2 separate regions of the Homo sapiens genome follow, and region 1 is linked to region 2. Evidence: fine-mapped expression QTL. A gene starts in region 2. The other region holds a variant in brackets. All regions are shown on one strand. Distances are from middle to middle.

What was found. PIP is the estimated chance that this variant, and not a neighbour inherited with it, causes the effect. A credible set is the group of variants that fine-mapping cannot tell apart.
Region 1: its variant is the best candidate, but not a certain one, in a credible set for the expression of EEF1A1 in rectum (CEDAR, PIP 0.71).

The regions. Positions count from the first base shown.
Region 1 is chr6:73,748,254-73,753,253 of GRCh38, reverse strand. The region is part of intron 5 of CD109 (CD109 molecule); the gene reads right to left. Among named protein-coding and RNA genes, the nearest start is that of CD109, 55 kb to the right of the region's middle. The variant T/C (reference allele first, on the strand shown) is at 2,766.
Region 2 is chr6:73,518,086-73,523,359 of GRCh38, reverse strand. EEF1A1 (eukaryotic translation elongation factor 1 alpha 1) reads left to right here and starts at 2,328. Exons shown (of 8, transcript NM_001402.6): 1 at 2,328-2,360; 2 at 3,304-3,477; 3 at 3,844-4,023; 4 at 4,132-4,428; 5 at 4,512-4,662; 6 at 4,750-5,006; 7 at 5,096-5,274. The coding sequence starts at 3,334. RefSeq lists a silencer at 1,571-1,800 and enhancers at 1,523-2,345, 2,381-2,460, 2,511-2,620, 2,346-3,167, 2,911-3,210 and 1 more.

The DNA of each region.
Region 1 (5,000 bases), 230 kb before region 2:
CCTGTAAAGAGTGGGATAGTAAATATTTTAGGCTTTGCAGGCCATATGGTCTCTGTCCCAACTACTTAACAATGCTGTTGCAATGCAAATGTAGCCAGACACAATTTGTAAACAAACGAGCACGACTATGTTCCAATAAATCTTTATTCACAAAAACAGGTGTCAGGCTACATTTGGTTTTTCTGCCAGGGTTTGCTAACCTCTAGTTTAAAAAAAGGAATAAAATGTATTTCCAAATTGTTCAGTGTTCGTTCTAGGTGAACTAAACTAAATTTGACTAAACTTTACTAAAAACATGGAGCAAAAAAACACAGTCTTTTCGTAGGAAGTACAAGTTTCTCTTATGAAACAATTTTCCTTCACTTTCAAAATAATTTTATCTGCTTCAAAATGAGTATTTGTGTTAACTGTAGTTCATCAAATACAGTTCATGCTCATTCACTCTGCCAACAACTGGAAAAAAGACCCTAACCTGAAGGCTTAAATACTTGGGCAGCATGTCTTTTAAGCAAACACCTCCCCAGGCAAGAGAAGCATAACTCATGTCTCCTGAGCTCTTCTTTCCCCAATATGGTCACTCTTCCATGGGGAAAGCTCTCTCTTAAAAACCTGCTCCAAAGCACATCCAGTAGAAACTCTCTGTTTCTACTGGATGTAAGACGGCCTTGATTAGATTTTCTAAACAACTTCTAAAGCAGAAGTAGAAAATAAGAGTCAGCAGGTATTCTTAGCAACCTCTGTAATTTCTCTACCTCTTGTCCCTGAGTCAATAATTCATTGTGAGGGTGTATGTTACAGAAATTAGACAAATGAAGTGGGAAAGAGAAAACACATTATTTTTACCACCCTTTTAAGAAGTATGTTATGACTAGAATACAAATTGAGACATGTGAATTACTACAACCATCTATTCCAGTTACAGAATTTTTCTTCCCTAACCATGATGCCATCCAACTCTTGAGTTTCTATTTTTAACAGATTTGAAGAAATATAGCATATTACATGACCATTAAAAAATATATTTTAAAATGCAGGTCAGTTTCTTTCAACTCTTGCTTCTGGAGTAAAAAGCAATGCCAGAATCAAAACTAAGGTGCTGGTTGGATTATTTCTGTTTGTTCATTATGTTCTTTTATGGTCATTTCAATTCCCTAATAGTTTGTTTTAGCACTACTCTCCAGTGTCTGGATGTACCTTTTACTTTAAGAAAGGCACTGAATTTGTTAAATCTGCACATAACGGGAGGTTAAAAGGGAACTATTTCAGACTCAGTTTTGCGTTTAGCCCCCAAGACAATAGATGTCAACTATGTCCACCTTCCACAGGTGAAGGATGCAGGACCTGTAAAGGAGGTTTCCAAAAACTGGTTTTGTAACTCTTAACCCATCACCAAGGTGGAAAGGTCAAGATAAAAATAAAACTAGAAGGGAATTTCAGGAGAGAGCTTTCGATGAGCTAGGAGTGGCACTCACCCCACCCTGGGGCATCAGGTAGAGTTGCTTGGCCCTCATTTCAAGCCTAGGGAAACGGGCTTCCATAGACAATGCAGACAACTAGGTATGTGTCCCTGGGAGCATCCTCAAGCTGTCAGTGAGCAGGCTGTTGACACACCTGAAAACTCTAAAGGGTATAATATTTGTGCTGGCAGTGGAGCTAAGAGTGTGCTATGCTAGGAGTGGTCTGCATCTCCTGAATGTTCAGGATCAGAGAAAGCATGAGCATTTTCCCTCAACTAGATATGCCAAAAGAGCAAGTCAGCATGGAACTGTTTTCTATCCTGATCAAAACAGCCTTAGTAGGAATAAGGCAAGCCCTCAGAAGAGGGAAGCTGAGGTGTGTGATCTAGATGCCCAGCAGCTAAAGATGGAGTTATGAGCTGCCATTTGGAGGAGACAGATTCAAAAGCATCCAGGGTACTTTGGATGAAAGACCTCCCCACAATCTTAAGGGTCCTCCTAGGAATACAGAAAGGAGTTCTAAAAAGGAAAAATGTAGTTTTAAATGCCGTCTTAGCCCAGACAGGTCTCATGCAGATGACAACAGTATTACATTGAACCATATTAAATTGACATTTTTGCAGGACAAATATTAGCAAGTTCACATGACTCATCCTTATACATCAGATGAGAATTTTGTTACCCCTCACTTCTCTTTCCTCCACCCAATTCAGTCTGGAGGAGTCAAAGGCAGCCTAGTGAGTTGGAGGCAGGCATCCAGACCAAAGAAGACCCGAGCTGGAGAAGGGAGCATTTTATTTTATTAGACTGGACATATTAATTACTGAATGTAGACTGTGTATATGAAAGTAACCGAACATGACAGGACCTTTTGTTACCAAAGAGTAACCATAAAAATGATGAGATTTTCCCTACATTTTATCCAAGGAGTAGGGAAGAATTCGTCCCAAAGAACAGGACAAAATGGCACAAAAATAATGTGCTTTTTTACTTCACCTGTCAAGTAATAAATGTTCAACCTCACAGTTACACATAAATAACTGGGCATGAATATGTTAAGTAAGAATAGGAATACCATAACATAAATGAAATTATATTGCTGCTGCCTCCACCAGATAATCATATTAATTCTCTCCTTCTTAGGAACAGAAGTTGTAGACTATTATATACATTACCCTACATTACATAGCTATGTTATGTATAGCTATTTATGCGCTTTATTGCTCTTGAAATCTCGATTCTGCCTCTCCCATTTCACTGACCCCAGAAGATGCTCGGTATGCCAGGTTGCTTTCCTCTAACCGCCTG[T/C]CACCTTTCTCAGGCCTCACTCCCTTTGAGGCCTCTGCAGCACCTGGAAAGCCACTCTCTCTGAATCTCTTGCCCTCTGCTCTGTGCCTGAACTTGCTTGCTTTTCTCTTCCCAAAACTGGCTGTTCTTTCTCTATTGCTTTGGATGGCTTCTCTGCTTTGCTCCTAAATGTGATTTCTGATGGCTCAGTCCAAATACATCTAGCTCATACCACTCACCCAAACTGAGCTTCCATCCCTAACTTCCCTAGAACTGATATGGGTGATTCTCCCAAAGACCCAACTTGAAATTCCCAGGTACCTTTTGCTCCTCTTTCTTCTCTGCTCCAATCGAAATCCAGTCACTAATCCTAATGATTCTGCCTTTAAGTGTCTCTTGAATTCATCCATTCCTCTTTAATTTTTTCTGCTCTCTTACCGCAGTCCCCCATTACCTTTGAACTTACTAACACTGAAGGTATTCGATTATAAGCTAACATTGAAGGTATTCGTATATTTGTTAAACAATAATACTAACCCCCTGGTAGTCTCCTGGACTTTAGTTTCTCTCCCTCTAATCACCCTACATGCTGCCACCAAAGTGATCTTCCTAAAATACAACTTTAATCATGTCATACTTTTACATAGAAACTTTCTACTAAAGCAATAAGAAGACAACACATACTGATGATTTTTGTTTGTTTGGAAGTTTACCATAAGGGTGTCATACTTTCTACACTATCATGTTTGGATGTTTTTACCTTACTCATGCATTACTTTTATAACCAGAGGAAAATTATGAAGGTATGATCCTATAACTTTTATAATTTGAGAGACCCATTCACACACATTTTGTTTCCTTTGTCCTCAGAAGTCCTATATTGAAATTTGCATCACTGATTGAAATTCAAAGTAAAATACACAAAAGTTTTTAGAGCTGCCTGTTGTCTACAAAATGAAATACAAAATTTCAGCCTGATAGCCAATATCCTCCACAGCTCGGCCCACAAACTTCCCCACCTTTCTCTTCAACTACTACTCTCTACAAGCCCTCCATGCCAGCCAGTGCCTGCTCCCAGCCCCACAGCCCTGTCAGCCAGCTCAGAGCCCACCACTTCCCATCCAAATCCTACAGTCCCCTCCAGCCCTATCTTGGACTTGTAAAGTTGTGAAGATCCTTAAAAATCCCTTGATCCAAACCCCTTATTTTACAGCTGAGGAAACGGAGACCCACAGCTGAAATGCCATGCCCACCATCACTTAACTAGAGCACAGTACCCAGGTCTTAGGACTCCTAATCTAATGCTCTTTGCATTTGTTACACGAAGCTTTTCTGATTGTAAGCTCCTTGAAAGCCAGGTCTGTGTCTTGTCACCTTTAGATGTGTACTGACTGGTGTTTCTTCCCACCCTCGCATACAACACAAAAGCTTCATATTTTTAGCTTTATTCCGATCCCTACTAACCTGACTATGCCTAAACCTATTGCCTACGTAATAGCAATCATGTAATACCCTATTTTTCCCCTCTTTTATTTTTACCATAAAATTGGGAGAGCTTAAAAATAAAAAAGAAATCACAATGGAAATATCATCCTGTAAAAGTGTCAGCTGATGTACACTGTCCTACTTAGAGGAATGACAGAGTCAATAGGGTTTGCAAAATGAGAGAAAATGTTTATTAACATTTACATCATCCTTTCCTTCCCTTTCCTGTTTAGAGTCTAAACACCTGTGGTCTAAACTGTAGTTGCAACATATTTCTCTATGGGGTTCAACCCAAACTCAGCATCAGAATCAGCTGTGGTGGGTTTAATAAATAGAGGTGTCCAGTTCCTACCCCAGAGCTACTGAATCAGAATTACCAGGGCTGAGGCCCAAACACAACAAATGCATTCATTCATCCATTCCTTCAAGAGATATTCATTGCGCCTGAGTGGCAGGTGTAATGGGAATACAACCCCGCATGGACCTTCTGATCTAGTGGAAAGAAGGATATTTATCAAATAACCACATATGTGAGTATGTATTACAAATTATGATAAAAGCTGTGAATTAACATTTACAGAGAGTTATGAAATCTGGAGATGAGATGGGAAAAACAGAGTCAGATCAGGTAAGACCCTGTGTAGGCCATGGTAAAACATCTGAATTTTGTTCTGAGGCCAGTGGAAAGTCTTTGGACAGTTTTAAGCTGGGGAATAACATGATCCAGCTAATGTTGAGATTATTTTTACTGCTGTGTAGATAATTGGTTGC
Region 2 (5,274 bases):
CTCCGCTTCCCGGGCTCAAGCGATTCTCCTGCCTCAGCCTCCCAAGTAGCTGGGATTACAGGCATGCGCCACCACGCCCGGCTAATTTTGTATTTTCAGTAGACAGGGTTTCACCATGTTGGCCAGGCTGGTCTCGAACTCCTGGCCTCAAATTATACGTCCGCCTCGGCCTCCCAAGGTGCTGGTATTATAGGCGTGAGCCACCGCGCCCGGTCCAGTGTTGGTTCTTAAACGCGAGAATTGAGATCTCCCTTCACCTAATGAAAGTCTCGGCCACTATCGCAACATTCAGAACACCCAGTCTGTGTTGCACAATATGTTACTTAGGTATAAATCAAGGATTCATGTAATTTTGTCATTCCTTGCGTGATATTTTAAAAAACATTCTGTGTAAGGTATTTATAAAGCGTTTACTATTATCCGCAATCACAGGGGCTTGAGGAAAAACTTTGACTGTGGCCGGGCACCGTGGCTCACGCCTGTAATCCCAGCACTTTGGGAGACCGAGCCGGGTGGATCACTTGAGGTCAGCAGTTCGAGACCAGCCTGGCCAACATGGTGAAACCCCCGTCTCTTCTAAAAATACAAAAATTTGTGGGGCGCGCTTGTAGTCCCAGCTACTTGGGAGGCTGAGGCAGGAGGAATCGCTTGAACTCGGGAGGCAGAGCTTGCAGTGAGCCGAGATCGCGCCACTGCACTCCAGCCTGGGCAACAGAGTAGAACTCCGTCTCAAAAAAAAAAAAAAAAAAGAAAGAAAGAAAAAAAAGTGGACTGTGAAAACTGAAAGGACTAGAAAAACTACACTACAAAGATACAGAAACCAAGAAAGCACCATAGCGTTTGCCTTCAACTGCTTCCCAACTTGTTTTCCTCTTCCAATTTGATTGTGGTTTCCTCTCCAGAAGGAACTCCACAGTACTTAGCGTTGGCCACATAGTAGGTTCTCAAATACTTGTTAATAAATAAGTTTGTTCGAGAAGCTGGGCAATGATATTCTACAGCTGGAAGAAGAAACATAATGATCTAGTAATTAGCTCATTAAAAATAAACGTTCTTCTTTCCTCAGAGGAGCATTTCCCAAGGCCTGCCTTGATAGCCATCCAAAAAGGCCAAGCTCATCCAATCTTGCCCTAGATTTATGCTAAAATGCAGTTACAATCGATAGGATGACAGAAAACGACAGCACTTATTTAAATATAATAGGCACTTATTTAAATAGGAGAAGCTGTGACTTCATAGCAAGTGTTGGGGTTAGGAAACTGGGTGGATAAACTTGCTGATGCTGTAGATCTTAGCCTCTACATGAGATCATGTGGAAAATCTGAAAGCATTTTAGGTTCCTTATGTTTGCAATCAAATAACTGTACACCTTTTAATTTAAAAAGTACCATGAGGCACACACACACACTCGCAGGAACTTTTTGGCGTAACAAAACTAGAATTAGATCTAAAGCTAACTGTAGGACTGAGTCTATTCTAAACTGAAAGCCTGGACATCTGGAGTACCAGGGGGAGATGACGTGTTACGGGCTTCCATAAAAGCAGCTGGCTTTGAATGGAAGGAGCCAAGAGGCCAGCACAGGAGCGGATTCGTCGCTTTCACGGCCATCGAGCCGAACCTCTCGCAAGTCCGTGAGCCGTTAAGGAGGCCCCCAGTCCCGACCCTTCGCCCCAAGCCCCTCGGGGTCCCCGGGCCTGGTACTCCTTGCCACACGGGAGGGGCGCGGAAGCCGGGGCGGAGGAGGAGCCAACCCCGGGCTGGGCTGAGACCCGCAGAGGAAGACGCTCTAGGGATTTGTCCCGGACTAGCGAGATGGCAAGGCTGAGGACGGGAGGCTGATTGAGAGGCGAAGGTACACCCTAATCTCAATACAACCTTTGGAGCTAAGCCAGCAATGGTAGAGGGAAGATTCTGCACGTCCCTTCCAGGCGGCCTCCCCGTCACCACCCCCCCCAACCCGCCCCGACCGGAGCTGAGAGTAATTCATACAAAAGGACTCGCCCCTGCCTTGGGGAATCCCAGGGACCGTCGTTAAACTCCCACTAACGTAGAACCCAGAGATCGCTGCGTTCCCGCCCCCTCACCCGCCCGCTCTCGTCATCACTGAGGTGGAGAAGAGCATGCGTGAGGCTCCGGTGCCCGTCAGTGGGCAGAGCGCACATCGCCCACAGTCCCCGAGAAGTTGGGGGGAGGGGTCGGCAATTGAACCGGTGCCTAGAGAAGGTGGCGCGGGGTAAACTGGGAAAGTGATGTCGTGTACTGGCTCCGCCTTTTTCCCGAGGGTGGGGGAGAACCGTATATAAGTGCAGTAGTCGCCGTGAACGTTCTTTTTCGCAACGGGTTTGCCGCCAGAACACAGGTAAGTGCCGTGTGTGGTTCCCGCGGGCCTGGCCTCTTTACGGGTTATGGCCCTTGCGTGCCTTGAATTACTTCCACGCCCCTGGCTGCAGTACGTGATTCTTGATCCCGAGCTTCGGGTTGGAAGTGGGTGGGAGAGTTCGAGGCCTTGCGCTTAAGGAGCCCCTTCGCCTCGTGCTTGAGTTGAGGCCTGGCTTGGGCGCTGGGGCCGCCGCGTGCGAATCTGGTGGCACCTTCGCGCCTGTCTCGCTGCTTTCGATAAGTCTCTAGCCATTTAAAATTTTTGATGACCTGCTGCGACGCTTTTTTTCTGGCAAGATAGTCTTGTAAATGCGGGCCAAGATCTGCACACTGGTATTTCGGTTTTTGGGGCCGCGGGCGGCGACGGGGCCCGTGCGTCCCAGCGCACATGTTCGGCGAGGCGGGGCCTGCGAGCGCGGCCACCGAGAATCGGACGGGGGTAGTCTCAAGCTGGCCGGCCTGCTCTGGTGCCTGGCCTCGCGCCGCCGTGTATCGCCCCGCCCTGGGCGGCAAGGCTGGCCCGGTCGGCACCAGTTGCGTGAGCGGAAAGATGGCCGCTTCCCGGCCCTGCTGCAGGGAGCTCAAAATGGAGGACGCGGCGCTCGGGAGAGCGGGCGGGTGAGTCACCCACACAAAGGAAAAGGGCCTTTCCGTCCTCAGCCGTCGCTTCATGTGACTCCACGGAGTACCGGGCGCCGTCCAGGCACCTCGATTAGTTCTCGAGCTTTTGGAGTACGTCGTCTTTAGGTTGGGGGGAGGGGTTTTATGCGATGGAGTTTCCCCACACTGAGTGGGTGGAGACTGAAGTTAGGCCAGCTTGGCACTTGATGTAATTCTCCTTGGAATTTGCCCTTTTTGAGTTTGGATCTTGGTTCATTCTCAAGCCTCAGACAGTGGTTCAAAGTTTTTTTCTTCCATTTCAGGTGTCGTGAAAACTACCCCTAAAAGCCAAAATGGGAAAGGAAAAGACTCATATCAACATTGTCGTCATTGGACACGTAGATTCGGGCAAGTCCACCACTACTGGCCATCTGATCTATAAATGCGGTGGCATCGACAAAAGAACCATTGAAAAATTTGAGAAGGAGGCTGCTGAGGTATGTTTAATACCAGAAAGGGAAAGATCAACTAAAATGAGTTTTACCAGCAGAATCATTAGGTGATTTCCCCAGAACTAGTGAGTGGTTTAGATCTGAATGCTAATAGTTAAGACCTTACTTATGAAATAATTTTGCTTTTGGTGACTTCTGTAATCGTATTGCTAGTGAGTAGATTTGGATGTTAATAGTTAAGATCCGACTTATAAAAGTTTGATTTTTGGTTGCTTCTGTAACCCAAAGTGACTAAAATCACTTTGGACTTGGAGTTGTAAAGTGGAAACTGCCAATTAAGGGCTGGGGACAAGGAAATTGAAGCTGGAGTTTGTGTTTTAGTAACCAAGTAACGACTCTTAATCCTTACAGATGGGAAAGGGCTCCTTCAAGTATGCCTGGGTCTTGGATAAACTGAAAGCTGAGCGTGAACGTGGTATCACCATTGATATCTCCTTGTGGAAATTTGAGACCAGCAAGTACTATGTGACTATCATTGATGCCCCAGGACACAGAGACTTTATCAAAAACATGATTACAGGGACATCTCAGGTTGGTGGGATTAATAATTCTAGGTTTCTTTATCCCAAAAGGCTTGCTTTGTACACTGGTTTTGTCATTTGGAGAGTTGACAGGGATATGTCTTTGCTTTCTTTAAAGGCTGACTGTGCTGTCCTGATTGTTGCTGCTGGTGTTGGTGAATTTGAAGCTGGTATCTCCAAGAATGGGCAGACCCGAGAGCATGCCCTTCTGGCTTACACACTGGGTGTGAAACAACTAATTGTCGGTGTTAACAAAATGGATTCCACTGAGCCACCCTACAGCCAGAAGAGATATGAGGAAATTGTTAAGGAAGTCAGCACTTACATTAAGAAAATTGGCTACAACCCCGACACAGTAGCATTTGTGCCAATTTCTGGTTGGAATGGTGACAACATGCTGGAGCCAAGTGCTAACGTAAGTGGCTTTCAAGACCATTGTTAAAAAGCTCTGGGAATGGCGATTTCATGCTTACACAAATTGGCATGCTTGTGTTTCAGATGCCTTGGTTCAAGGGATGGAAAGTCACCCGTAAGGATGGCAATGCCAGTGGAACCACGCTGCTTGAGGCTCTGGACTGCATCCTACCACCAACTCGTCCAACTGACAAGCCCTTGCGCCTGCCTCTCCAGGATGTCTACAAAATTGGTGGTAAGTTGGCTGTAAACAAAGTTGAATTTGAGTTGATAGAGTACTGTCTGCCTTCATAGGTATTTAGTATGCTGTAAATATTTTTAGGTATTGGTACTGTTCCTGTTGGCCGAGTGGAGACTGGTGTTCTCAAACCCGGTATGGTGGTCACCTTTGCTCCAGTCAACGTTACAACGGAAGTAAAATCTGTCGAAATGCACCATGAAGCTTTGAGTGAAGCTCTTCCTGGGGACAATGTGGGCTTCAATGTCAAGAATGTGTCTGTCAAGGATGTTCGTCGTGGCAACGTTGCTGGTGACAGCAAAAATGACCCACCAATGGAAGCAGCTGGCTTCACTGCTCAGGTAACAATTTAAAGTAACATTAACTTATTGCAGAGGCTAAAGTCATTTGAGACTTTGGATTTGCACTGAATGCAAATCTTTTTTCCAAGGTGATTATCCTGAACCATCCAGGCCAAATAAGCGCCGGCTATGCCCCTGTATTGGATTGCCACACGGCTCACATTGCATGCAAGTTTGCTGAGCTGAAGGAAAAGATTGATCGCCGTTCTGGTAAAAAGCTGGAAGATGGCCCTAAATTCTTGAAGTCTGGTGATGCTGCCATTGTTGA